4 linked regions of the Homo sapiens genome follow. The protein of the gene in region 3 interacts with the protein of the main gene of each other region in a pairwise test. Each region holds a gene or a part of one and is shown on either strand. Other genes may lie near its edges. The genes, in order: CEP63, MID2, TBC1D22B and CCDC57.

The links.
Region 1: the proteins of TBC1D22B (region 3) and CEP63 interact in binary tests that used the Homo sapiens proteins (3 or more experiments, as listed by UniProt).
Region 2: the proteins of TBC1D22B (region 3) and MID2 interact in binary tests that used the Homo sapiens proteins (3 or more experiments, as listed by UniProt).
Region 4: the proteins of TBC1D22B (region 3) and CCDC57 interact in binary tests that used the Homo sapiens proteins (3 or more experiments, as listed by UniProt).

Annotation. Positions count from the first base shown.
Region 1 is NC_000003.12:134,530,880-134,538,428, reverse strand, and holds part of CEP63 (centrosomal protein of 63 kDa), read right to left. Parts: intron 6,585-7,549; coding exon 6,489-6,584; intron 5,670-6,488; exon of another isoform or gene 5,652-5,669; coding exon 5,529-5,651; intron 1,275-5,528; coding exon 1,161-1,274; intron 1-1,160. UniProt on the Homo sapiens protein: Required for normal spindle assembly.
Region 2 is NC_000023.11:107,828,720-107,836,268, reverse strand, and holds part of MID2 (probable E3 ubiquitin-protein ligase MID2), read right to left. Parts: intron 1-7,549. UniProt on the Homo sapiens protein: E3 ubiquitin ligase that plays a role in microtubule stabilization. Mediates the 'Lys-48'-linked polyubiquitination of LRRK2 to drive its localization to microtubules and its proteasomal degradation in neurons.
Region 3 is NC_000006.12:37,260,569-37,268,117, reverse strand, and holds part of TBC1D22B (TBC1 domain family member 22B), read right to left. Parts: intron 1-7,549. UniProt on the Homo sapiens protein: May act as a GTPase-activating protein for Rab family protein(s).
Region 4 is NC_000017.11:82,202,294-82,209,842, forward strand, and holds part of CCDC57 (coiled-coil domain-containing protein 57), read right to left. Parts: intron 6,847-7,549; exon of another isoform or gene 6,839-6,846; coding exon of another isoform or gene 6,779-6,838; intron 5,756-6,778; coding exon of another isoform or gene 5,554-5,755; exon of another isoform or gene 4,040-5,553; coding exon of another isoform or gene 3,988-4,039; intron 1-3,987. UniProt on the Homo sapiens protein: Pleiotropic regulator of centriole duplication, mitosis, and ciliogenesis. Critical interface between centrosome and microtubule-mediated cellular processes. Centriole duplication protein required for recruitment of CEP63, CEP152, and PLK4 to the centrosome.

The sequences.
Region 1 (7,549 bases), on a different chromosome or scaffold from region 3:
CTTGCTGTGGCCTAGAAAATAAATTTCTTCCTTGCAATTGTTGTGGACTTTTCCTACCATTTTGAATGAAGTCACTCACAGCAGAGCCACAGCCACTGTCGGTAGTTTATCAGACTGCTGATATTTCAGGGAGACGAACAAAAAGTTAATGCATTATTGAGACTTAAAATAGCAAATAAATGCAGATTATTTTTAAAAACCCAAAAAGCCAAAAAAAAAAAAAAAAAAAACCCTCCCTTCTAGCTATTTCAACTTACCCAGGCTGTTCCCTCATTCTATAAAACTAAGATAACTACCAACCTTGACAGATTATCATAATATTAAACAGAGAACACATACAAGAAGCACTGGGTCAATGTCTAGCACATAACAGATGATCACAAATTTTTTTAGTTTCCTTTATGTTCTTGATTCTAACTGAAAAAGGAATGAGCTGAATATGTTCTTACAAGACATATTCCTAAAGTAGGTGTCTGTTTTTTGGTTTTGCTTAAGCCATTACAAGAAAAGTTTCTATCAATGTTCTAAAATAAGTGTTTTTGTTACCACAAAGACACCACTTTTAGTTGGTGTGCACACCATTGCCATGTGACTCTCTCCGTATCTGTCCGCATAGGCAGACTAACTGAAGCTCCCTAGCTGAGACACTTCGGCCAAGATACCCCAGTGACCATAGGGATGGAGCAAGGCACAGACTATAGTAGAGCTGAGAGACCCAACAAGAGACAGAAAGACATGGAAAAGGAGACAGAGGGAGGAATGGGACTGTGGTAGGGAAGAAAGAGAGGGGAGGAAGAGAGGGCGACAAAGCTAGGGACCAAGATGAGGAGAGTGAACATGGATGCAAGCATAGAGTGAGCCTGAGTAAGCAAGACAATGACAGAGAGTGGGTGAGCAAGTCAGAAACAAGCAAGGAGGCAAAGCAGCAAGCGGGCACAAGGACATGAGCCTGGACAGGAGAGTGAATGCACGCATGTGTGAGGGCAGGCGGGAAGAAGGAGCTGAGTCTAGATGCTGAGGAGAGGCTTCCTAAACAAGAGAGCAGGGTTCGTGGAGAGAAGCTGAAAGAGGCTAAATGGTACTAGGACACTGCATTAAGGTAGTTCAAACTTGATCAAAACCTATCTGCTTCTCATTATTTTAAAAAGTCTTAGGCCTACCTGAATTATCTCTGATTGTTCAGCCAGAGCCTTCCTTTGTGCCTCCAGTGAAGATACCTGTTGCTGATAAATCAAGCGTTGCTTCTCCCAGTCCAGCGATTTCTGACGGAATTCCTGAGGAGGCAATTAGAGTACTTAATTTCTGAGTGCTTCTCCTCACTGTCACTACTTCCCAGACTCCCTTTAACTTTAATTTCTCCCCATGTCCCTGGGTACGCTTGCACCTTTCTCCACAGCGGGAGCCCCATTACTCACTCAGCTAACAGAGCTGGAGAGTAATACTAACTTCCTCACATACTGTGCCTCTGGATATCTGTCTTTCTAAATTTAACACCCTGATGGTGAGGAGTATGACACGCAGATGTTAAGCACTGGATTCAGATGTTTTTCACTGATTTGCTGCCACCTAAGGGTTGTTATAATTTTCTAGTGAATTTTCAGAAAACTGATGCTAAGATAACTAAAATTTTAAAGTATGATTACAGATATCCCTCGCTATCCAAATTCTTGATATCCAGACCCAGGAATTGAACAGATTAAATTTTCAGATAAGTCCCTTGGTAACCCAAATCTTACTTCCCAGTATCTAAAACTAAGGAACCAAGTAGATTCAGATAACACAATATCCTTTGATATCCAAATTTGTATTATCTCAACAGAGGAACTGCAAAAGTTTGAATAACAAAGAAAATCTGTACCAAATTTTAACAAATATTTGTAACCCAAAGCCAAACAGTTCAAAATTAATGATGGATCAATAGTAACATCAAATTGCATGATCAAGAAAGTGATTTCAATATTTATGAAAATGGGGCAAATCAAAGGGAAAGGAAACTCAATCTTTCTATCACTGTCTTCCAGGACCCTCAACTCCAGAAGTCTCAGGCTCCTTAAGATAAGTGTTGTTAACCAAATTTCTGATATTCATTCATTCATTCAATCATTCTACTATATATGCCAGGTACTGCTTTAGGAGTCAGGGATACAATACTTAACAAAACAAACAAAAACCCTAGTCCTACTCAACTGGGGGCAACAGATGACACATTTCTTGTATGGTATAGCAGATGGTAATACACGTTTTGGAGAAAACAGAGCATGAAGTCTTCACAGTTGGGGTTGTAATTTTTAAAAGGGATGGCCAGACTGAGTGAAAAACATTTAAGTAAACACCTAGGGAGATGAGGGTGAAGTTACAATATTCTGGGTGGAAAGAATAGCCTTGAAATAAGAGCATCCTGGTGTGTTTAAGGGTGAGAAAGGAAATTGGTGTGGCTGGAATAAAGTGAATGAAAGGGAAAGTAGGAGAAGACAAGGTAAGAGAGATAACTGGGAATGAGACCACGTAGGCCATTAGGATAACAGATTTTTAAGAGAAGCTGCTGGAAGGTTTTTGTATAGGAAGTGATATAATTTGACTTACATTACAGCAGAATCATTCTGGCTATCATGCTGAGAAAAGAGAAGTCTAGGATGACTCCGAGGTTTTAGGTTGAGCAAATTGAGTTGTTATCAACTAAAACATGAATCAGTGTTGGGGAGATGAGGAAGAGAAAGACAGGACCTTTAGCTTGGACATGTTAAGTTTGACACATTTTAGACATCATAGTGGAGATAGGAAACAGGCAGTTGAAAGTTATTCTGTCATGAAGAGGCGAGGTCTTGGCTAGATATATAAATTTAGGAATTGTCAGCATATACACAGTGTTAAAGCTATGAAATTCAATGGGATCAATAGGGGAGTGAGCGTAGATAGGAAAAAAAAAAAGGAAAGGAAAGGTCCAATGACATGACCCTAGGTGGTTAAGGAATAATGGAGACTGAGGAGTGATGAACAAGGAAAAAATGAGAGAAATGTGGTTTTTCTCAAGCCAAGTCAAGAAAGTGGTTAAGGAGTTGGGAGAGACCAGCTCTCCTACAAAGCTGTAGGTAGGATGAGGAAGATAAGGACCAGCCCACAGGCTTTGGGAATGTGGAAGTCACTGGTGACCTCTATGTGAACAGCTTCTGCAGTGTGAGGGGACAAAAGCCTTATTGAGTGGGTACAAGAACAATGAGACAAGAGGAACTGGAGACAAGTATAGATGACTGAAGTAATTTTTTAGTTATAAAATGGAAGAAATAAAATGGGGCAGAGGAGGAAGAGACGGGTCAAGAGAGGATATTTAAGAGGAGGGAAATTTGGATGCTGGTAAAAAATATCCAGTAGAGAAAAAAAATTAAGGGTGCAGAAAAGAGAAGGTGAACTGCTAAGGTAATGCCTTGGGTAGAAAAGGGGGAGGGCATGCGTAGTTCCTCCAGGAAGGAAGGCAGGGTACATGGGCACAGATGCAGATAGGTGGGTGGACACAAGAGTTGGAAGTCTATAAACAGAAAGGAAGATATAACCCAAAGGTGAGGATGTGGGGAAAGGTGTTGAGAGTTTGAGGAGAAAAGCAGAAGTCTGAAATACTCATTGTGGAAAGTAGGAGATGAGAGGAAATACAGTATGATTCCAGGTAGCATTAGGACCCATTTGAGGTTAGTGACCATGAATTTAAAGTGAGAACAGACAGTATGATTAGGTTTTTCTCTAGCCACGTTCAGCGATACATGACAGGTAGAGAGTGGGCAGAAAGGTGGACTTAAGCAGAACTGTGATTCTGCCAAGCAAATATGAGGAAGCAAGAGAGGAGCACAGGAGATGAAGGGGAAAGTAAAAAATGTAATGACAGAATTTAAAAGCTGGCTAAGGACCGATAAGTGAGAACACCAAGTAGATAATGGAGCAGTAAAAAGGTGGCAGAATTTAATCATTTTAAGGGATGGTTAATGATTACTGAGAGTCAAAGGACTAGAGAGAGTTAGCTGAAAAGATAGGGATTGGTAGTCTGATAATTGAATGCTTGAAAATGAGATTCTAGAGGGGTGGCATATATTGGTAATGACAAGAGCTAAGGAATGGCAGTGGGAATAAGTAGATGAGACACAAAGATAATCAAACTATCTATGGAGGAAAGAAAGCCAAGAAACTGTAAGGTCAGAGTATTATAAGCATCATCTCTCCAGATCCTAAGATCCTCAAAGTTATGATAAGAGTAATGTCAGAGAGAATTGACAGTGAGCTGGGTGCTGAAATCAATGAGCCAAGGAAATAACCCAGAGGTCAGACGATGACTATTTTGGTTGTTATGTTCATTGGCTGGCAGTATAGGCTGGTAACATGAAAATCAAAGATGGGGTTTTTGAGGTAGAAAGAAAAGAGAATAGTCAGGAAGTGGCAATGAGAAGCAAGAAGGATATAGGGTTTGGGGGGAAAAGGTATTGCCGAAAAGGGTGGAAGGGAAGCAGTAGCTGCAGTCTTCTGATTCTAAGCTCTTCAAATGTAAAAAAATATTGAGATATAAAGGAATATTAAACACAGAAATTATAATTTTAAGTAATAATAATATACTGGCATTTGTGGGTGACAGGTCACCCAGAGTACAAACTTGTAAGTGATCACACAAAGATGTTGAACAATGTTTCTCAAATCAGAATAAGCTAGGGGAGCTGGATACAATGCAGATCCCTAGGTCCTATGCCATACTGCTGGATCAGCATTTCTGAGAGCCTAAAAGCACCCTGGGAATTCTTATGTCCAGTGAAGAACTAATGGCAAGGACAGACGAAGAGAATGACAGCCTTGTGCTCTTCCTTCATCTACTCTTGGTACTATTAGCTCACCAGCTCCCCTTAAGTTCTCAATATATACAATAATCATGGAGTTATTCAGTCTTAATAAAAACAAAGTCAGCAGAGAAGGAAGTGAATGCCTTACTACATCTAAATGGGAATTGAGAATAATCTGATACAGAGATTACTTTGTACGAAAAGTGCCATGTACTTTCCACATTTACTAAGCCCCCACTTTATTAGGTGCTTGAGATACAATGATATATAAGACAAGAACAATGTCCATAGAGGACTGCCTATAACTAGTGGTCATGTTTCCCAATTGGAGAGTTACTGGCATTTGAGGTACAATAATCCTTCCTGTGTGGAACACTCTTAGGCATGTTTAGTATCCCTGGTCCCTGTCCCCTAAATGCCAGTTTTATTAAGCTCAGTCATTTTGACAACCAAAAAAATATGTCTCCGTACATTTGCAAATGCTCCCTAAGGGTGGTACTGCCCTGTTGAGAATTACTGATGGCCAGTAACCCCGTTAACCCAGGGAACTAGATGATGATAGGATGTATGGTGGATCACCCTCTCACCTCTGAAATAGCTTAGTGGCAGTCCTTAAGATAGTAGAAAATTGGTTCCAGAAAATAGTGCCATTAGAAACCGCATTTTCCTACGTGAAGGCTGACAATCACTATGAACAAATTATTACTATGAACATACCTCTATTTTTGCAGTTAACCTCTCAATTTCAGACCGATCTTCCCTGTGATTTTTGGTATTTCCTCTGAATTCCCTCATTTGCTTTTTCTGAAGCTTTTCATAGCTTCTCTTCAGTATGCATAACTGTAGAAACAGTTATTTCTATATTTAAAGTTTAAGAATTTGTAAGAAGTAGTGGTGAGACAAATTGGTATTATGAAAACAAGAGCAGTGCTAACCAGTACTACTGAGAACATGTTAGATTTCCAAACTAAAACACAAAAGGAAACTAAAAATTAAATATGTAAAACAAACACTACTAAAGAAATATATTCAAAGAAAAAATTTTAAAAAAAATTTTAAACAAAAGTTTTGTATTACAATAGCCCTGCACTTAAAGACCCTACCACCCAGCCCCACAATAAAGCAGCAAATAAAAACTCTTTTTCTTTCCTCTAGGTCTGTGATTCTCAAGCCATGCTCTTGCAGGGCACTGATATTCAGGATGCAGGAGAAGAGTACTTTGCAATTAAATCAGAATAAAAGCAGTTTTTTCCAAATCTGAAGAATAAAATTGAGTTAATGGACAGAATTTTCTTACTTGTCTTATTTATCCCAAAATGTTTCTTAAATCTTTGGATCCTCCATTATTTATAATCTAGTAACTGATAAAAATTAAAATATTAAATGTAATTTTTGGTATCAAGTATTTCACAGTATTACATAAAAACAGCTCTATTTCTTTCAGGTACTCAACCAAGAAACATATTTTAGCATCTCTTCTAGGTAGTATCAAACCTACAGTTAGGCAAACCTCTTTACCTGGATTAAAGAACAGAGAAATGGATTCCCACTCCTGTATCTTTGATGGAGTATGTATTTCCCACTTTACAAAGTAGAAACTGGCTTTCATTAACAAAGTTCTCAAGGGTGAAAGAGAGAGAACTACACACACAACATTTAACAAAACTAAAATCTCACTTCTTCATGTAGTTTCTTCAACTCCTGCTTATATTCCATGGTCATCTCTTGCTTGATTTTTTCATGTTCTTCTACCTGCTGATGCAACATTCCAACCTAAAAGCAGAAAGGTGGTAGTATTTTTCACTATTAGCATTGAAATAACATCCCTGAGATATAAAAATAGAAAATAATCTCTGTATTTATTTGTAAATTCAAGTTCTCAAATGCATATATATGGTGATACCCCACTTCTTAGGAAGTCAAATACCTAGTTATTTAAGAATTCTTTACACTGCCAAAAAATAGTGAACAAACAGCTAGTTTTTAGAATTTCTAGGTTTAGATGAAGACTCTCTCTCTTTTTCTTTTTTTCTTTTTGAGATGGGAGTCTCACTCTCGCCCAGGCTGGAGTGCAGTGGTGCAATCTTGGCTCACTGCAACCTCTGCCTCCCAAGTTTAAACAATTGTCTGCCTCGGTCTCCCAAGTAGCTGGGATTACAGGCGCATGCCACCACACCTGGCGAATTTTTATATTTTTAGTAGAGACAGGGTTTCCCCATCTTGGCCAGGCTGGTCTTGAACTCCTGACCTCGTGATCCACCTGTCTCAGCCTCCCAAGGTGCTGGGATTACAGGCGTGAGCCATCGCGCCCGGCCGAAACTGTGTCTCTCTGTCTGATTATCCTACTCAACCCTTTTCATCAAAAAAACTCATGAAAATAAGAAATATAAAGTGTTGAGAGTCCTGGAAACCAACAATACTTCATAAAAAATCTAGAAGACCTTAGGAATAATTTCTCTACAATAAAGTACAGAATAGTAACGTCAGACAGGAAAACAAAAGGAGGTTTGTGCCTGCTTTACCATTCACCCAACTCCAGAGAAACGAGTTCCACCAACCATGGTAAGGAAGTTATCCTAACCCACTTTTCAATGATTTGATACCAGTGACACCTATTTTCTGCCAAGCCTTCACCTCCACAAGTATCCAGCAGTATTTCTTTTAATAACCAGCTAGAATTTCATCTACTGGTAAGTAGGGAGGGAGAGGGAAAACAGGGAACACAAGGGAGTAAACAA
Region 2 (7,549 bases), on a different chromosome or scaffold from region 3:
AAAAAAAAGTAACTTGTTCAAGGTCACACTTGTTTCTAAGTGGCAAAACTAAGAATCAAACTTAGGATAAAACTTTAGAAATAAACCTATATATATCTATGGTCAACTGATTTTCAACAAGGGTTCCAAGACCATTCGATGGAGAAAGAATACTCTTTTCAACAAATGGTGCTTGGACAACTGGATATCCACATGCAAGAGGATGAAGTTGGAGTTCTACTTCATATCATTTATAAAAATTAACTCACAACAGATCAATGATCTAAATGTAAGAGCTGAAACTATAAAACTCTTGGAAGGAAAGATAGGCATAAATCTTTGTGAACTTAGGTTAGGCAGGCAACAGTTTCTCAGATGACACCAAAAGCATAAGCAACCAAAGAAAATATACATAAATGGTACTTTATCAAAATTTAAAATTTGAGTGCTGCAAAAAGCACCATCAATGAAGTAAAAAGACAACCCACAGACTAGGCGCAAATATTTGCAAATCATATTATTATATCTGATATAGGTCTAGTCTCTAGAAATGTACTCTTACAACTCAAGATTAAAAAAGATGAGTAACTCAATTTAATAGTAGGCAAAGGATTTCAATAGATTTTTTCCAAAGATATACAAATGGCCAATAATCACATGAAAAGGTGCTCAACATAATTAGCCAGTAGGAAAATGCAAATCAAAACCACATTGAGATACTACTTCACACTAAGAAGGCTAAAATATAATAAAACAAAACAAACAAAAACCGGAAAACAGCACGTCAGCCAGGATTTGGAGAAGTTAGAACCCTCATACATTGCAGGTAGAAATAAAAAATGGTGCAGCTGCTTTTGGGAAATAGTTCGACAGTTCCTCAAAAGGCTAAATGTAGAGTTACCATATAATTCCACTCCTAGGTATATACCCAAAAGAATGGAAAATGTGTTCACTCAAAAACTTGTACACAAATGTTCATAGCAGCAGTCTTCATAGTAGCCAAAAGGGAAAAGCCCAAATGTCCATCAACTGATGAAAGGATAGACACAGTGGAATATTACTTGGCTATAAAAAGGAATGAAGTTCTGATACATACTTCAACATGGATGATCTTTGAAAACAGTAAGTAAAAGAAGCCAGTCACAAAAGGCTCCTTTTGTGTATGATTCCTTTTTTATGAAATATCCAGAATAGGCAAACCCAAAGGAACAGAAAGTAGATTAATGGTTGCCAGGAGCAGGGCAGGGGAGGATGGGGGATGAGGAGTGATTGCTAACAAATATGGAGTTACTTTCTGGGATGATGAAAAGGTTCTAAAATTAGATAGTGACGATGATTGCACAACTTTGTGAAGATACCAAAAACCACTGAATTGTATACTTTAAAATAGTGAATATTATGGCATGTGAATTACATCTAATTTTTTTAAAGAAGAGATTCAATCCCAGGTCTGTCTGACTCCAGGGTGTAAACAGCAAATCACTATACTATACTAACAACTGTGTGATTATATAGTATTTATAAATTCTATTGGATTGCTTGTTCCTTTCAATTGTTTTTCTAGGTCAATGATTCCCTGTCTAGGTTTTGCAATACCCTGGGATATCTCTAGTGATCAATGAGTGTTACAAAATTCTCAGCTCCCAATTTTTATTCACTTTAAAAAGTATATAAGTGACTCCTGAAAAATATTTGACTCCTATTATCATGAAATACTTTTAGCAGGAGGAAGTGGCATGACAAAAATTAAACAATGGCAAACTGTTGCAATTTCAAAAAGTTTGTGAATCACTAATCTATACAGAGTTAGAGAGTATGCTAAGGATGAAGACAGGATGTGAATCTGATAGGGTGCAACTCAATGACAGGTAATCTTGAAAGTTTTTACAATTTGTCATAAAAACGCATTGATGAAATACCTGAGAGGGCACGATCAATTGCCATATTAAGAAACAAATGTCCACATCCACACACCCTGATTAGTTCCCTTCCAAACCATTTAGTTACTGCCATATATAGTCAGATATGTATGTTTGTTTCTGTATGGCTTTTCTTTACCTTGTGCCTTACTACAGGGTGAGACCTCTGAAAAAAGAAGTCGATGAGCATAAACTAGAAGAAGGTACCATTGGGCTGTATAACTGGGTAGAAATACAAAAGGAGTTTTGATGAAGGTGATTAAGATAAAAAATAATGGGTCTGGCGTGGTGACTCACACCTGTAGTCCCAGCACTTTGGGAGGCAGAGGCAGGCAGATTGCTTGAGCCTAGGAATTCGAGACCAGCCAGGGCAACATGGCAAGACCCCATATCTACAAAATATACAAAAATTAGTGGGGTGTGGTGGCATGCACCTGTAGTCCCAGCTACTTGAGAGGCTGAGGTGGGAAAATCGCTTGAGTCCAGCAGGTCGAAGCTGCAGTAAGCCGTAATTGTGCCACTGTATTCCATCCTGGGTGACAGCATGAGACTTTGTCTCAAAATAAATAAAAATAAAAAATAAATTTCAAAAACGTAAAAATAATGCATCCTACACTTATGAAATAAAAGACTGATTTCAGCATTGTCCTCCAAATCTAGCCTTTAGCTAACTCTGATCAAGAGAGAAGTCGTGATCTGTACTTTGCATAATTCTATTATTTCAAAGGTTACTTGAGCATAATTAAATGCCCACTTAATTAACAATTATTATTCCATCTAATTTTTTTTCTTCCGGGTCTGCAAAGCATGTATCTGAGCTCCCACTACCTTCCTGAGGAGTTATAGTATTCCCTTCATAGAAAATCCATGAGTGTGAAACCAAGCCTGATCTCTGGGCTGTAGATTGAGAAATGAGCTGAGCTGTAGGTTTTTAAAAAAAATATATATATATATATATAAAATAAACATTCTTCAGGATATTAAAATTAATGTCCCATGAGTTCTTCCTTAAAGTATTAGAAACTGTCTCCCTGCCTTGGGGTAAGGAGCAAATGAGTCCTGGCCTAGTCTGATGTTTCCTCAACTGTAAAATGTTCAAGCTAAACTAGAATCACCAGACGATCTCTTTAAGATGCTTTCCAGCTCTGACATCCGATTATTATAGAGCTCTTGCTATCTGTTACCACATAAAAAGACAGCTTGGATTATTGTAAACTAGCTCCTAAAAACACAACTTTTATTTATTAGTGTGACTAGGAAGGCTAACAAGTGATAGACATCACAGCCACTGGAGCAGGACATAAACAAAATGCATTACTAAGATGCTCAAAGTACAGTGGTTTTTGTCTGTTGTATCTCAAAAAAGACATAATGGATGTTCCAGAGGACAACTAAAGGGGAGAAGAGTCCCATGGGAATATAAACTAATGAGAATATATTTGGGGGCTGTAAAAGAAACCAAAATCCAAATTCTAGAACACCATGATTAGAAAAGAACCCCTTGAAGCTCAAAGCAGATCATTTTGGAACACAAAAGGCAACCAATGCATCGAATTCACACACTATAGGATAAGAACTGAAAATAGAAACCTAGACAGAAGAGGCTAGGTGGTCAGTAATAATAATTGATAATAGCCACCTTACATTTGTATATCAATTTATACTTTTCAAATTATTTCAAAGCCATTATCTCATTTGACCCTCATAATACAGCCTGGTTGTAGTCCTGGATCTAAACCAAATTAGCCGAGCAATCCTAGGTACATTTAAACTCTTTGGGCCACAGCTTTTTCATCTATCAGATGAAAAATACCTGCCCTGCCCATCTCACGGGCTATTGTGAGGATCAGACGAGGATAAAATAAAAGTATTAGTTTACTTTACAAATACAGGTATTCTCATCATACATTCATAGATTATAGAAACAAAGCAAGTTATTAAGAAAAGCCAAAAATGTTTGGAAATTCATCCCAAACACATGGTTGACATAATGGCAGACAATCACACTCCTCCACAAGACTTCTGGAAGATCATGGGACTGATCATGGTATTTGTTATGCTCATGTCTTCACTTTTAGACTGGGATCCCCACCCCTCTCCAAGTGAAGGGCTGTCTCTTTTCTTTTCTCTTAAACTTTCATCCTGCACAGGGAGAACTCAGAACTGGAGGCTGATTACCGACTGGCAGAGAGCACCAGTGCCAGCTCCTGTCTAATAGGTTATTAAAGCCTACTTAATATTTTATAGTACATGGAATTAATGTATGTTCTTTTCAATAATTAGTTTTTAAATCCAAACATTGAGTATTTTATACAAGATAGTCATCATATAAACATTAAAATGAGTATCAAAATAGCAGAACTAGAAGTCCTAAATCTGCTACAAACCCAAAAGGTTAATCCAAGTAACCAACAAATGGATTTGCCAAGGTAACACATGATAATTGACAGGAATCCTAAATACAATTCATAACACCTTTATCTTAATGCAGATTACACTGGCAGTTGCAGGGTTGAGGAACAAATGGAAAACAAACTTAATTTACCTATGACTACTGGTACAGCTTTCCATCTCCTCTAGGATTGCTTTTCCTAACCTCTGTTACCCAACAAAATATTTGTAAGTTTTTAAATGTTCAGTGGTTCACCTGGACAGGCAGTCATCTACACAATAAAAATGGCAATATATGTATGTAAGACATGTTATTGAATGTTAGGCTGAGAGGACCCCAAGTTCAGGTCAGAAACAAGGGACAGAGAACAGAGGCCTATTTGAAATCAAGCTTCTACTTCCCTGGGAACCACATGGATCCTAGCAACACTGAACAAAGGGCTATACACAAAGTGATCAAGGATCTGGATCGTAAACCATTTTTCTATCTCTGTGCTGTATATATTAAGACACTTCACTGTCATGAATTAGCATTGTCTGCCATGCCCATACATTATGCTCCTATCCAGGCAAATTGCAAATACTGGGATTTCATGTTTCAGGACGATTTCAGATTGTATGATGGGTTTGTTATCAGATTGTTCGGTCTCAGTAAGACGATGATCCAGAGACTGGGGATGCCGTTCATCAACCAGCGGAGTCTGACCTACGGGAAGGAAGCTGAGACAAAGCCCAAGGTCAGGCAGCCAGAGCTCTGCAGGGAGGCCAGAACCCAAGTAGGATAATGCTTACAAATGATACTTTGCCAACCCACTTAGGCTGAACCAGCATCCTAGAGTGTATTCAGGTGAATCCCACAAGGAAAAGGAAATAATGGGATGCTGGCACATTACTCAAAATCCCTCCACCACCCACACTTTAAGCATCTTATACTATCTAGTAGTCTTAGTAATTTATAGAATTTCTAAAAGAAAACTCAGCATCTGGGAGATTCATCATCAAAAGGATTATATCTGCCTATGGTCATAAAGAAGGGGAAGACAGAAAGAGAGAAACAAATAGAAACAGCCACAGACTACTTAAGCCCACAGAAAACTCTTAGCAGAGTTTTAATACATGAAAGTGGAGAAAGGAACATATTTAATATATTGAGGAGGTAAATAAAAAGTAGATTAGCTATCTGTACAAGAAGATAATTACAGCTGGAATTTCTTGTCTCAACACCACTCATCTGGTCTTCTCACTTGCTAGCATGACCCAACACACCAGTTGAGAAACACTTTTCTAGTCTCTTCTGTACACTGCTTAGTGATGAACACAATATTTTTTGAGAGACCTGAAGTACAGATGTTAGTGCAACACCATCTTGGTACCAAAATTTCATTTATCAAAATGTAAACAATTTTGAATTATCCAAAACTGTTGTATATCCAGTATCAACATGTTACATCTCATATTTTGATGATGCAATGTTCTAAGTCAAGACACCCAGCTTAATGAGTAAGGAGTGCTTCATGAACACAGAGCTTCATTCTCGCTTTTGTGCCAAAGAGAGGACAAAAACTTAATGCTAAATGGAAATGGAGCACCCCCTGGCCTCTACTAGCAGCCGAGCCCCATGGCCTAACAGCAAGGATATTACCAAGATTCATAAAGATTGAATGGCAGACACACACAAGACCAAGCAGGTATTTCCAAGAGCAGCCATTTGAGACATATTCTGTGCCCACAGCCCTGTCTTCACCCTTTTAAGGGCTCTGTGTCCCTGTCTGAAAAGACAGAGCTTGAGTTCTATGGGATAGAATGAGAAGACAACATTCTCTCCTCTTCACCAAGCCAATGAGGTTTGCTGAATGATGAAGACAGACATACTCCTTGTGTAGTTCCCTTGTCAATTATTGTGGTGTCAGCAGATTTTATGGGAGGAGGGATGAAGGAATGGACAGGCTCACTACTCAGAGCAATATTTGGATGCAATTGTGAGACTCCACTGGCACCACTTTAGGATCTGCGAGTTGAAGCAAGTTTCCCTGCTCTTAGGGAAGGGATTAACTAAATCAGTTTTATCTAAATCAATTTGCACCATTCAGATGATATGTTCATAAAGCAATCAAGTCACTCTGATTTACAGGAGTACTTCCCAGAGGTGGCCTTGCAGGGTGCAACATGCCAGACGAGAATTCTAGTAGTCATGAAAACAAATAAGAGGGACACAACCACCCTTTCATGTCCCTAGCCTCTACCCATGTCCTGCACAGCCCCTCCCTGACCTAATCCTGGAGTTGCAAGTATGGAGTTTGGCGTGGAACAAGCAGGAGGCCAAAATACTGGGCTAAATCTGGGGCCTCAGCCCAATCAGCAGAGGTCCTCTGCACATTATAGGTGCTTAATATTGTTGACTCTGCTACTAGGTGCTAATCATGCTTATATAGCCATACCCCAAATTATTTATGACACTTTTCATTAGAAGCTAACAAACTGCCCCCATATAGGCTAAAAAATGGGTGAGGTTATGTCTTCAAATTAGTCTGACTCAGATTGTTAGGTTAGAGTGCATTAGAAATGATTCAAGCCTCAACTTAAATTGATCATTATTACTCTGTATGCCTAGTTGCATGTATGTTTTCATTCAGTTGAACATGTATTGGAGAAAAACCAGATTTAGGACCTACGTACAATGATACGATTTGGCTCTGGGGGTGGGAAGCTAAAGGTTTTCAGTAAGCTAAGATTCCTGCTTACACCCAGTCAATCCACTAACTCAGTAAAAGGTAAAGGAAGTGCTTTCTTTGAAAAGTATAATGTTGGCTGGGTGTGGTGGCTCACACCTGTAATCCCAACACTTGGACTTGGCAGGTGGATCCCTTAAGCTCAGGAGTTTGAGACCAGACTGGGAAACATGGTGAATCCTGTCTCTACAAAATATTCAAAAATTAGCCGGGTGTGATGGTGTGTGCCTATAGTCCCAGCTACTAAGGAAGCTGAGATGGGAGGATTGCTTGAGCCAGAGAGGTCAAGACTGCAGCAAGCCATGATCACACCACTGCACTCCAGCCTGGGTGACAGAGCGAGACTTCGTCTCAAAGGAAAAAAAAAGTATAATGCTGAGGGTTTACAGAACCCTTTCATCTTCAAAGGACCAAGTCAAGACTAACAATACCCAGTACACAATATTATAGCTTTTACACAAGTGCACCAACTATGAAAGAAAAGTCATAGGAATGTCCTAAAGCCATAAGCCAATGTATCATCATATTTGG
Region 3 (7,549 bases):
TTAACACCTGTCTGAAGAAGCTGTGAGAGAACAAACTTCAACTAATCATGAGATGGAGAAACCATGGCAAAAGGATTGGTGGAGAGCCCTGAACAGATCCAACCTTATGACTAGGTCTTACATTTGAGGCAAAGAGAACATCAAAGTAATATAATTGGCAAATGTTAAAAGGAGGAAAAAATGGACAAATGAAGTGCATTGACTTCTTCATCTTTTACTGACAGGGCTCAGAAGATATTTAAAGCAGATAGCTCAATTTGCAAATCTATGTCACTACCTGTTTAACATTAAATCCTAATGTAGATTTGCAAATGTTAATAGACGAATATGGATGTTTTACGACAGAAAATAAAACCAAGAAAAATAATATAATCAACTAGAAGCAGGTGGGAAGAGAGGGGTGAGGAAATATACTTACTAATTTCATCATTACTCATGGTAGGGAGCCAACAGGTACTGTCTGAAGAAATATGGTATAAAGTTACACTTATAAACACAATCACTAAAATAAAAAGATAAATCTTCCAAATTATCAGAATATATATATGTGTGTGTGTATATATATATGTGTATATATATATTATATATATAGTGTATATATATATTATATATATAGTGTATATATATTATATATAGTGTATATATATTATATATATGTGTATATATATATTATATATGTGTGTATATATATTATATGTGTATATATATATTATATATGTGTGTATATATATATTATATATGTGTGTATATATATTATATATGTGTGTATATATATATTATATATGTGTGTGTGTATATATATATATATATGTATGTCCTCCCCTCAAAAGCAAGCACAGTCCACATAGTGAAAGACTTTTTTAAGAAGAAAATATTTTTAAAAGGGCAAGCATGGTAGCTCACATCTGTAATCCCAGGACTTTGGGATGCTGAGGTGTGAGAACTGCTTGAGGCTAGAAGTTTGACCAGCCTGAGCAACGTAGCAAGACCTTGTACCTACAAAAAATTTAAAAATTAGCCAACTGTGGTGGTGCATGCTTGTACTTCTAGCTACTTGGGAGGCTGAGGTGAGAGGATTACTTGAACCCAGGAGTTTGAGACTACAGTGACCTATCATCGTGTCACTGCACTATAGCCTGGGCAACAGAGTAAGTCCTTATCTCAAAAAAAAAAAAAAAAAAAAAAAAGACGAAGAAAATATTAAAAATTGAACTTAAACTAAATAACTAAATATATCAGTTATTCCAATAAATATAAAGGAGCTAACTTACCTATTAAAATAGAAAGGATAATTACCAACAGGAAAGTAGTTAAATAAATTACAGTATATCTTTTAAAAAGAATGAGGCAGTTCTGGCCAGGTGCGGTGGCTCACGCCTGTAATCCCAGCACTTGGGGAGGCCAAAGCAGGCAGATCACCTAAGCTCAGGAGTTCAAGACCAGCCTGGCCAACATGGTGAAACCCCATCTCTACTAAAAAATACAAAAATTAGCCGGGCATGGTGGCAGGCACCTGTAATCCCAACTACTCAGGAGGCTGAGGCGGGAGAATGGCTTGAGCTGGGGAGGCGGAGGTTGCAGTGGGCCGAGATTGTACCACTGCACTCCAGCTTGGGGGACAGAGCAAGACTCCGTCTCAAAAAAAAAAAAAGAATGAGGCAGTTCTATATTCACTGACATGAAATAAACTCAGACATTAATTGAAAAAAGATGCAGAACTACATGTATGACACCATTTTTATAAAAATCTTTAAAATAGATACATGCATTTTATGTATGATTAGGTCTATGTATCTGAAAGAATATCAGAGTATCTGAAAGAATACAAAAGACACTGGTAGCAGCAGTTTGGAATAGGAACCAGATGACTGGAAGATGATGGGACACCAAAGAGACTTAGTTTTCACTGCAAACCCTTTCTGATTTAGTATCATGTACAAGTATCACCTTTATAAGAAATAAGCGATCTTGAGAAGGTTAGAAGGTTTAAGTGGGACGATATGTTGAAAGCCCTTTAGCACAATTCCTGGTGGGTGGTAATGCTAATTTAATGTTAAGCAGGAAGTGACGTAGATTTGCAAATGTTAGAACACTACCCAGCAAACACTCAGTGCCCAAGAAATGTTGATTTTCTTCCTCCCTCCCATTTTTATAATTTAATCCATACTCAACATTTAGAAATTGAAACAAGCTTACCAAATACTTGTTTCACATAACAGAGGTGATCCTAAAGGATGCTCTTAAATAAAAATATAGCCAAATCAATCACTTTCACATTGATTCCTATTAAGATTTCAGAGGAAATCTTACATATAATCTTTAATTTATGAATACAGTCCCTACTTCTTTAGCTATAAGAATCTTTACTCCCTAAACCTCTCTGGAAGATTAATAAGTAATGTGTAAGCAAACTATTACATATATTACTACAGAAATACAAACTTTGAAAACAATACTAATTGATGTGTTTAAAGGGTTTCCTAGGCAGAGAGAAAAAAAGAGGAATCAAAGAGTAAAGGGAAAGTTCTGCTGAGAGAGGAAGGGGGTGTTAGACACCCCCACTGACCACGGGAAAAAAAAAAAAACCCAAAGGGCTACTGATATGCACATTAGCAGCTGCAAATAATCTAAGAGTACACCTGAATTCTTCAAGCCCACAAGCCCTCCTCACAATAAAATATAAAATCAGAGGATAAACTGCAGGAAGATCTCAACAGGCCGGTTAGGTAAGGTGACTGGGTAGAAAAATAAGAGAGTATTACCTTAAAGAAGTATTACCATCTGCCAGTAACCCATGCAGAAGAAAAGCAAACCTAATTTGTGCAGGCTGAAGGGCCAGAGGCCATCAATTACCATCTAGGAAAGGAATCTTAAAATCACAGTAGACTATTTTTTAAAGCTGTCAGCCCAAGGTGCTGGCATAGCCAGGAAGGCTAAGATAAATGATGGACTTCATCAGCAAAGGTATCAGGGCCCAAATTGAATTTGTTAACATATTCTTGAACTGAACCATGATGTATCTAAAACTGGAACACTTTGTATAATAAATCAGCTTATTGCAGCTTAAAAAAGACAGGCAAGAATTTAGAAAAGAGAAACCGAGATGATCACAGAGACTAAATGGAGATAGACCAGAAGAGCCCAATGATTAAGGTGCTCAATTTCCTGACATTTATAATTCACCTTTCACTGTCTGTACCATACCTACTCCTTCCAAACCCAAACTCAGCTCTAAGAAAGACTGATCTCCACTCCACCTTCCAAACTTATTAAACCCATTATTAAATAAGGCTCTTTTCCCTACTTGGAATGCTTTTCTATTTTCTACATCCCTTTTCAAAATTGTATCCATCCTGCAACATTCTCTTCAAATTCTACACCCCTCATGAAACTTTCCATACCCCTACCCCCAGCATCTACTAACTCATGTCTTCTCTAGTTCCCTAACATACATAAATTAGGGCTTATATTACTTTTTAAAAATAAACTAGATTTAGATCATAATATAAGACACAATCAGGGCTGGGCACTGTAATCCCTGCACTTTGAGAGGCCGAGGCAGGCAGATCACTTGAGTCCAGCAGTTCGAGACTGGCCTGGCCAACACAGCAAAACCCCATCTCTACTAAAAATAAAAATTAGCTGGGCTTGGTGGCACACATCTGTAATCCCAGCTACTCAGGACGCTGAGGCACAAGAATTGCTTGAGTCTGGGAGGCAGAGGTTGCGGTGAGCCGAGATCGTGCCATTGCACTCCAGCCAGGGCAACAAGAGTGAAACCCCGTGTCAAAAACAAAACAAAACCAAACAAAACAAAACACCCTGGCATACCCCTCCCTCCCTTCCTAGCAAGCCACTCTATTGGATCTGGCATTTTTCACACTCATTTTTATATTTTTATTTTCTATGTATGTATCCCTAAATAATGTATGATTTTGCATGTTTTTTAAACTTTATATAAATAACATCACACTGTAAATATGACTTATTTTGACTCTAAATCATGTTACTTTAAATTTTACTTAATTCCATGGCTAACTGGCTGATCTCTCCAACACAAGTTAAAAAAAAAAAATACAAAACATTTGCTCTAACACAAGTGAAAAAGCATTTAATTGACATTTTCAAACACAAAGAAAAGTACAGAAAATGATATAATAAACATCCACAAACCCATCACTCTGATTTACAAATGTTAACATTTGTCACATTTCATTTAAGAAAAAAAGTGTTAGGCCGGTCATAGTGGCTCACGCCTGTAATCCCAGCACTTTGGGAGGCCAAGGTGGGTGGGTCATGAGGTCAGGAGATCAAGACTATCCTGGCCAAAATGGTGAAACCCCATCTCTACTGAAAATACAAGAAAATTAGCTGGGTGTGGTGGCACGCATCTGTAGTCCCAGCTACTCGGGAGGCCAAGGCAGGAGAATCGCTTGAACCCGGGAGGCGGAAGTTGCAGTGAGCGGAGATCGGGCCACTGCACTCCAGCCTGGCAACAGAGTAAGACTCCATGTCAAAAAAACAAAACAAAACAAAACAAAAACAAAGTGTTAGACTACTGATGCCCTAATTGCAGTCCCTAGTCCTGTTTCTTCACTTCCCAAGAGATAACAATTATTCTGAAATTGGAGGGAACTCCTCCCATCTGTTTTTATTCCTCTACATATATTCACAGATCCATAAACAACACACAGTATTTTTTATGTTTTTAAACTTCACATAAAAGACTGCACATTGCACATATCTTTCTACATCTTGCTCTTTGCATTCAACAATGTGTTTTCACCCAATTCCACTTTTAAGTTTGTCTGATTACAAATATAACATATGTTTAGTGGAAAAACCAGAAAGTCAATCATACACAGCATCTTCTCCAGGGGAAGCCATGATGCCAAGCAGATTTTTTAGCTCCTAGAAAGCCATAGTGGTGCCATATCTTTTTCTGTAGCCCCCTTGCCACCTGGCAGAGCATGACACATACCAGCAGGCACTTAACAATATTTAGTAAGTGAAGATTAGATCTCTACAAAACCTAGGCCTCCACTTAAGCTAGACCTAAAAACCAGAGGTTAGTTAACACACTGCATCTCGAAGAAATCACACCACATATGCAGAGAAAAGAATGCCATGGAATATGCTGCCACGCAGACAAAATGGAACAAAAGTTCTGATTAATCTCCGTCACTCTCTTTAATAAAACCAACACCATAGAATGTATTGACATAGCTGTTTTGCCTAGTTGAAACAGTGCAAACATCTTGGTAGGAAAAATCAACAGGTGTTTGTTTAGCACTGATAAAAGAGCTAGTGCAAATATGGGAAAAAGACCCATCAAATTTAAATGCCAAACGTGTTGGCAACTGATGTAGGTTCACACACTCACTCCACATTAGTCTTCCAGAACAGGTGATCTATGCTGTTTCGATGATAATTTAGTATCTTCTAGTCACTCACTCTACCAGTAAAACATCTCCAAGCCAAGAACAAGTTGTAATGTACCTGCCCAGACAGGCTGTGACTTTTACACTAAGTCTCCTATCAGATTCATTATTATTTTAGGATCGGCTTCAAGTTCTTAACTTGGCCTCTCTTTCTAACAACGAAGGGCCTGGAAGACTCAGGTAATTTCGATTTTGGCCAGACGCAGAGGCTCATGCCTGTAATCCCAACACTTTTGGAGGATGAAGTGGGCAGACTGCTTGAGCCCAGGAGTTCATGACCAGCCTGGGCAACATGGCAAGACCTGTCTCTACAAAAAATACAAAAATTAGCCAGGGCTGGGCACGGTGGCTCACACCTATAATCTCAGAACTTTGGGAGGCTGAGGTGGGCTTGAGGTCAAGAGATCACTTGAGGTCAAGAGTTCAAGACCAGCCTGGCCAACATGGCGAAACCCCCTTCTCTACTAAAAATACAAAAATTAGCTGGGCATGGTGGCATGTGCCTGTAATCCCAGCTACTCAGGAGGCTGAGGCAGGAGACTCGTTTAATCCTGGGAGGTAGAGGCTGCAGTGAGCTGAGATCGTGCCACTGCACTCCAGCCTGGGCAACAGAGGGAGACCCCATCTCAAAAAAAAAAAAAAAAAGGTGATTTTTTTTTTCTCCTGTGCCCGAGCTCTAGACACACACACACACACACACACACACACACACACACACACACACACACACACTGACCAAAGCTTTTTTATTTTTCCCCCATAGGTTTGTGCCACCAAGCCCAGATAATTTTTTTGTGTGTTTTTAGTAGAGACGGAGATTCACCATGTTGGCCAGGCTGGTCTCGAACTCCTGACCTCAAATGATCCACCTGTCTCAGCCTCCCAAAGTGCTGGGATTACAGGTGTGAGCCACCACACCCAACCAGATCAAAGCTTTTCAATTTCAGTTTCAAAAACTGAAGCAAGGAGAGAAAACAAAAATGATAGCTACTATCATCGTAACTATCCTTCTTATAATAGCTAATATTATTGTGTACCTCCTAACCAATTATTATGTATTATCTCATTTAATCCTCATAACAGCCCCATGGAGCAGATACTCTGTCCCTATTTTAGAGATGGGGAGACTGATGCATTGAGAGGTTAATTAAATCCCATAAGATCACATAGCTAGAAAGCAGAGCTGGGATTTTAACCTAGGCAGTCAGATTTCAGAGCCTGCATTTTTTTTTTTTTTTTTTTTTGGAGACAATCTCTTGCTCTGTTGCCCAGGCTGGAGTGGAGTGACGCAATCTCAGTTCACTGCAACCTCCGTCTCCCAGGTTCAAGAGATTCTTGGGCATCAGCCTCCTGAGTAGCTGGGACTACAGGCACACACCACCAAGCCCAGCTAATTTGTATTTTTAGTAGAGATGGGGGGTTTCACCACGTTGGCCAGGCTGGTCTCGGACTCCTGGCCTCAAGCGATCCACCTGCCTCAGCCTTCCAAAATTCTGGGATTACAGGCCACCACACCTGCCAAAGCCTGCAATGGTAGAGATTGCCTCTTATCTTCTAGGCATTAATACAATGACCATTTGATGTGCTAAGTAAATGGGGCTCATGTGAATAACTGAGAGAACTTAAAAGATGCTTAGTTCCACCAAGTTACTACATGACCCAGCAATTCCACTCCTATTTATCAGCAGAAGAATAGAAAATATATATCCAAACAAAAACCTCTGCATAAATGTTCATAAAAGCATTACGTACAATAGCCCAAAAGTGAAAACAATTCAAATATCCATCAACTGATGAATGAACAAAATGTGGTGTATGTATACTATGGAATATTATTCAGCCATAAAATGGAATGAAGTACTGATACATACTACAGCGTGGACAAGCCTGAAATCACTGTGCTTAATAAAAGAAGCCACTCACAAAAGGCCTCAGATCATATTACTCCATATATATAAAATGTCCAAAAGTGGTAAATCCACAGAAACAGAAAGTAGGTTAGTAGTTACCAGGGTCTGGAGTGGGGTGGATGGGGAGTGACTGTAAACAGGTATGTAGTTTCTTTTCAGGATGATGAAAATGTTCTGAAATTAGTGGTGATGGTTGCA
Region 4 (7,549 bases), on a different chromosome or scaffold from region 3:
CCGTCTCTACTAAAAATACAAAAAATTAGCCTGCTGTGGTGGCACGTGCCTGTAGTCCCAGCTACTCGGGAGGCTGAGGCAGGAGAATCGCTTGAACCCAGGAGGTAGAGGTTGCACACCAGCCTGGGTGACAGAGCAAGACTCTCTCTCAAAACAAAATAAACAAAAAAAAAAGGCCAGGCATGGTGGCTCACTCCTGTAATCCCAGCCCTTTGGGAGGCCAAAGTGGGTGGGTCACCTGAGGTCAGGAGTTTGAGACCGGCCTGGCCAACATGGTGAAACCCCGTCTCTACTAAAAATATAAAAATTAGCCATGCATGGTGGCGCATGCCTGTGATCTCAGCTACTCGGGAGGCTGAGGCAGGAGGATCACTTGAACCCAGGAAGTGGAGGTTGCAGTGAGCAGAGATCGCACCATTGCACTCCAGCCTGGGCGACACTAAGACTCTTTTCTCCAAAAAATTAAAAAAATAAATTAAAAAAAAGAAATCCAGGGGAAGTAGAGGAAGGGAAGATGGGAAACATGGTTTGTCCAGCTATAAGAGCTAGGTTCTATAAAATAGCTTCAACGCAGCACTCTGTCCATTTCACAGCTGAGAAAACTAAGGCTGCTAAGTGGCTACGTGAGGACTGACAGCAGGTCAGTCCCTCAGAACCAATGCCCCTTCCCACCCAACACCCTGCTCCTGGAAGATTCACCACCTGATATGGTTTCGATATTTATCCCTGCCCAAACCTTTGTGGAATTGTAATCCCCAACGGGGGAGCTGGGGCCTGGTGGGAGGTGTTTGGATCATGTGGGCGGACCCCTCGTGGCTTGGTGCCGTCTTTGTGACAGTGAGTTCTGGGGAGATTTGGTCATTTCAAAGTGTGTGGTGACAATGAGTTCTAGTGAGATGTGGCATCTCTCCACCACTCACACTCCCCTCTTGCTTCGTGCCTGCTCCTCTTTCACCTTCCGCCATGAGTAAAAGTTTCCTGAGGCCTCCCCAGAAGCGGGTGCCAACACTGTGCTTCCTGTACAGCCAGGAGAACCGTGAGCCAATTAATCTTTCTTTATAAATTACCCAGCGTCAGGTATTTCTTTCCAGCAATGTGAGAATGGTCTAATATACCATCCGAGAGTACATTCTTTTGTTCTTTTATTTGTTCATCATGGACTGATATTTTGGTAAAACCATAAAAATAAAGTGCTACAAAAAATAAAATTTAAAAACAAAAATCACAAAAACCAATAAGCTGGGCACAGTAGCTCTCGCCTGCAATCCCAACATTTTCTGAGGCTGAGGTGGGTGGGTCATTCAAACTCAGGAGTTCCACGCTGCAGTGAGTGGTCTATTAAAAGATAAAGTTTCTTCTGGCTGGTCCTAGCTGCCCCCAACCCTTTAGAGGTCCAAGTATGAGCTCGATTTGGACACAGAAATCCCCCACAACTCTTCTCTGGTGTCCACACAGGGGAACTGCATGGCCTAAAAGGGCCACACCCAGTTGGGGGACAAGCACAAACTTCCGGCCTGGTGGGACATGGCCGGGGTGCTGCTGCCAGAGCAGGAAAAAGCCCCAGCCTGTCTTAGGGTACCTCTGTATCTCCGGGCACCTCTGCATCTCGGGGCACAGCAATGGTTGTACAAAGTCCCAACTCCCAGAGGGAGCGGGTACAAGGGCACAGCCAGGCTGAGCACCGGCTGTGACGAAGCACAAGGAGGAGGTGGGTAAGGGGCTGCAAGACCCGTGGGCCCCTCCAGAAAGGGCTGGTCAGCAGGGCACACCCGCTGGGGGCACGAGGGCTCCCTGGGGGTCCTGAGACGGCGCTTCTCTGACGAGGCTCTGGAGCAAAGACGGTCTCCTCCATCCCACATGCTTCCTGCGATGCAACCCCCGCGCCCAGCACCCTAGGACCATCACGCCACCTGGACCACCTCAGCCTGGCTCCTCCAAGCTGCTGCGTGCCCACCCATTGCCGGAGCTAACAGGGTCCCTACCGACCATCTCAGCACTCTCCCACGCTCCTGTTCCTCGTCTCCCTCAGCTCCTACAACGGCCCCACCGTCCACCCCGTGTAATGATCCTTGACCTCTTGCTGTCTCCCACCTTGTGCCCACACCTCGGCCACCACAGTGTCTTACCACAAGAGACCTCAACTGGCCTCTGCTGTGCACTCCCACTTTTTTGGCTGCCAAAGGAATCTTTTCAAAAATGCTTTACCAGGGCCGGGCGCAGTGGCTCATGCCTGTAATCCCAGGACTTTGGGAGGCCGAGGCGGGCGGATCATAAGGTCAGGAGATTGAGACCATCCTGGCTAACACGGTGAAACCCCGTCTCTACTAAAAATACAAAAAATTAGCTGGGCGTGGTGGTGGGCGCCTGTAGTCCCAGCTACTTGGGAGGCTGAGGCAGGAGAATGGCGTGAACCCCGGAGGCGAAGCTTGCAGTGAGCTGAGATCGCACCACTGCAGTCCGGCCTGGGCAACAAAGAGAGACTCCATCTCAAGAAAAAAAAAAGGCTTAACCAGGCTTCCCATTCCACTGAGGACATCTGGACCCCAGGCTCCTGCCTGTCGCTGCCACGTGCCCTCAGAGCCTGGGATGTGTGGCAGGTGCCGCTCTGTCTGCAAGGTTCCTCCTAACCGCAGGGCAGGCTCCTCCTGCCAGTGGGACCTCAACCTGAACATCACTGCAGGGAAGCTTTCCTAACTTCCATCTCACGTTGGCACAACGCCATCACCCCAGTGTCGGGTGTAGTGAGTCCCACTGTCTGGCACAGTCTTGGCGACTGAAACATTTTGTACACAGAGGACATGCACACACCTGTGCACACACCTGTGCACACACAGGGAAAGAATTGGACTATCAGCAAATACACATTAAATGATGGAACACCACTGTGATCTCTGATGACTCAGAACCCTTCACACAGTGCCCGTGAGTCATGACAACGGTTCTCTGCAGAGCCTGAGGTCTGCGAGGTCTACGGGCCTCTTCTCTGAGGGACTGCTGTGGCCCCCGTCCTGTACCAGCTGCCCTGCCACTGGGCTTGCCTCCTTAACTCATTGGTCGCAGCCACCCATGGGGGTTGCCGTTCTGAGAATCTGATCATGCAATCTTATCTGGCCTCAAATGTGCCCGCGACTCCTGACCATTTTCAAAATAAAGTCCGATCTCCTTGGCACAGCGTATGAAGACAGACCGAGGACACGGCCCAGCCTGCGTGGCTCCAGCTGCTCCCTGCAGGCCCAGAGCAGCCTTTATCTGCCAGTTCCTGTGCACGTGCTACTCCAGGTCCCCATGCCCCCATCTCCCCACTGGGTGAGGTTCCTTCCCACCAGGTCTCAGGACTCAGCGGGTCACCCTGTTTTCAAAAGCTTCAGGCAGCCAGGACAGGCAGATGGCACGTACCACCCCCTCTATGTGAGATGGGTGCTCCCAGGCCTCTGTGCTCTGCACAGAAGAGCAGCCTGAAAAATCCATACAGCAAGTGACTCGGTGCAGCACCCGGTGAGAGCCCAGCATCTCCAGCGCTTTATCCATCACACTCAGGACCCATAAGAAGCCCCACACACCAAGGGCCTGTAAGTCAGCCGGGCTCGGCTCGCCTTTCCTTCTGACCTCATCATAGAACGGCCTGCTCTGTTTCTGTACAAATCCCATCTCGGGATGATCCCCAAAGCCCCAAGGCTGAGATTAATTGGCTTTCAAAAGCACGGACTCAGCATCTGGACGCAATCTGCCTGTCGGCCAGCAGGCGTCCCCAGCAAGCACCTGGTTTCAAGAAGGACCATGAAGCTTCCGGGTTGGGGAGCGGCAGGAGAAGCCGCCGGGGAGGGAAGGCCTCGCTGTGCGTTCACCCTCTTTCAGGAGAACCAGTGGGGCTCCCTGAACCAGCCAGCTCCCAGCAGGGGCTGGAACAGCATGGGTGGGCATCCCATCACTTTGATTTTCTCATTTTAAAAATACTGAGCTGAGCTAACGGTGATGTTGTAGGTTTACCTGTTGTGGTACAATGACACATCATGGTTTTCTTGCACAGTTCCTGGCTCATAACTCTCACACGTCACAGTCTTTTGTTGCAATGTTGGGCGTGTCAGGCCTCAGGAAACAGAATCCTTCCAGGTCTCCACTCTCACCTGACTTTCCATTGTAGGTCATAAGATCCTCCCCAGAGCTCCCACCCTCTACCCTGGGGGAAGGAATGCTGACTTCAGGAAGCCTCCCTAAACACCCAAGAGGACAGGGTGTGGAGAGGTTCCTGGGGAGTGGTGGGTGGGGTGTGGGGGGGTCCTCCAGGAAGCCTCTTCCCCCATATCTCCCCTTACGCATCTCCTCATCTGTATCCTCTGTAATACCCTTTATAATAAACTGTTACACGTATGTGTTTCCCTGGGTTCTGTGAGTCACCCCAGCAAATCAATCGAACCCAAAGAGGGGGCTGTGGGAACCCCAACTTGAAGCCAGTGGTCAGTCAGAAGTTCCGGAGGCCAGGACTCGCGACTGGTGTCAGAAGCGGGCAGTCTTTGAACCACCATTGCAAAATTATAACTCAGACAGTGAAAGAGATCTGACCTAACCAATTCCATCGTGCTTCTAACCTCCAAGCTCTCCTTGTTCATTCCTGGGTGTAGGCCGAACTAAGTTTAGGAGGAACTTAGTTTATAGTTTGAAACAAAGACAGTAACAGCCCTTTCCCGAAACAAACCCCCTTTTTGCCTGGGGACTAGACTGCCTTTGTAGGACTAACAAATTAGCCAAAAGATTAGAAATTATGGTTTAGGGCCAGGTGCAGTGACTGGCCCCGGTTGTCCCAGCACTTTGGGAGGCTGAGGCTGGATCACTTGAGCCCAGGAGTTCGAGACCAGCCAGGGCCACACGGCAAAACGCTGCCTCTACCAAAAATACAAAAATTAACTGGGGCGTCGCTTGTAGTCTCAGCTACCAGGCAGGCTGAGGTGGGAGGATCGCTTGAGCTTACGACGTTGAGGCTGCAGTGAGCTGTGATTGCACCACTGCACTCCAGCCTAGGTGACAGAGTGAGACCCTGTCTCAAAAATAAAAAAAAAAAAACAAAAAAGAAATTATGGTTTAGGAGTCATGCAGCTACAGGCTACAAGATTCTGACCTTCCCCAAATTGTTCCTGGGGTAACATCACTATTGTAAAACCTAAGATCAATCAGTGCTTGAGATATTTTGCAGACCCTGCACTCCATGGATCAGCTGGCACCCCCGGATTGATAAACTGGCTCATCCGATCTTGTGGCCCCCACCCAGGAACTGACTCGGCGCAAAAGGACACCTTCGACTCCCTACGCTTTCATCTCCAACTCACTGGCCCCCTACACACTAAGTTATCCTTAAAAACTCTGATCCCCGAATGCTTGGGGAGACTGATTTGAGTCATAATAGAACTCCGTTCTCCCGCACAGCCGGCTCTGTGTGACTTACTCTTTCTCTATCCTAATTCCCGTCTTGGTGAATCGGCTCTGCCTGGGCAGCAGGCGGGGTGGACCTGTTGGGTGTTTATGTCTTGGGTGTTTATGTCTTGGGGACTGAGCCCTCACCCTGTGGTCTGACCTCTCTCCAGGCAGGCGGTGTTGGAACTGAACCGAAGGACACCCGCCGAGTCTGCGGCAGAACTGACTGCTCATGTGCTGGTGAAAACCTCCCTCTCCCACCACATTTGATCACAGAAGTCTTCCTCTGTGCTGATGATTCTTGTGGTATCAGAGTAGAGGAAAAACAGTTTGAGTTTTCCAGAAATACCTGTGAATAAAATACACATAAAATAAAATCTACTAAAAATACACAGAGAAGGGGTTTCTCCATGTTGGTCAGGCTGGTCTGGAACTCCCAAACTCAGGTGATCCACCTGCCTCGGCCTCCCAAAGGGCCGGGCGCAGGTGTGAGCCACTGCGCCCAGCCCAAATATATATATTTTTATGACCTCCATGTATAAATATATTTAATACCCTTAACTTATTATTATTATTTTAGACAGTCTTGTTTTCTTGCCCAGGCTGGAATGCAGTGGCGCGATCTTGGCTCACTGCAACCTCTACCTCCTGGGTTCAAGCTATTTTCCTGCCTCAGCCTCCCAAGTAGCTGGGATTACAGGCGCCCGCCACCATGCCCGGCTAATTTTTGTACTTTTAGTAGAGATGGGGTTTCACCATCTTGGCCAGGCTGGTCTTGAACTCCTGACCTCGTGATTCACCCGCCTCGGCCTCCCGAAGTGCTGGGATTACAGGCGTGAGCCACCGTGCCTGGCCTAATACCCTTAACTTATAAGACACTTCCTGGGACTGGAAGGCAGGTCTGGGGTGGCTCATTCACTTTGTACTCAGGACAGAGGACTCAATCTCAGCATCCTGAGTAGCTGGGACTACAGGCAGGCACCACCATGCCCAGTTAATTTTTTTTTTAAATTTCTTGTAGAGATGGGGTTCCACTATATTGTCCAGCCTGGTCTTGAACTCCTGGCCTCAAATGATCCTCTCACCTTTAAATGTACTGAATTTAGCTCTTGTGGCCCCTCTTGGATTCCAGAGAGTGCTGCTAAGCCCTCTGGGAGGCCAAATTCAGTAATCTACTCTTTTGTTTTGAAACAGAGTCTCAGTCTGTCACCCAGGATGGAGTGCAGTGGCACAATCACAGCTCACTGCAGCCTCGAATGCCCATCTAAAAGCTACAGCTCAAGCGATCTTCCCACGTACTTATAGGTGTGAACCACTGCACCCAGCCTCTCATCTACTCTTTAAATAGGTCCAGGGGACAAAAATTATGTACCTGTGACCCCGTGTTTTTTTTCACTTCCTCCACTGACTGCCGAAGAGTAGCCACAGCCATTTCTAAAACTGAAATAAGAGAGATGGGCAGTAGGTCTGAATTCTGTCAGTGGCACTTGCTGGAGAAGAGGGGCACCACTACCACGAAGGAACATGAAGGGCTGTTTTCTTTGAACGTGCATTTGCCAAAAAAAAGTGAGTAAGTGAGAAATAGAAGTTGAAGTCGAAGTCTTGTAGTTGAGTTTAGACTTTGCGGACTTTTAGAACCACGTATACATGTTTCATGTGCCAAAAACAAAGCACAACAAAAAACAAAAAAACTTAAAATCAGTAAGGACTCAAAATGAAGTAGAAACAGGTGAACCTAACTTGATTACAAGTGCGTAACTTGTAATAAACTCACAGGTTTTTTTGGTGTTTGTTGTTTGTTGAGATGGGATCTCACTCTGTCACCCGAGCTGCAGTGCAGTGGCATGATTATAGCTCACTGCAGCCTCAAACTCCTGAGCTCAGATGGTCCTCCTACCTCAGCCTCCAGAGTAGCTGGGACTCAGACACACGCCACCATGGCTGGCTAATTTATTTTGTAATTTTTTATAGAGATGGGTGTCTCACTTTGTTGGCCAGGCTGGTTTCCAACTCCTCACCTCAAGCGATTTTCCCCCCTCAGCTTCCCAAAGTGGTGGGACTACAGGCGTGAGCCACTGTACCCAGCCAGTTTTTAATATATACAGAGACACAGATATACTGAAATAGATTTGCATGTGTATAG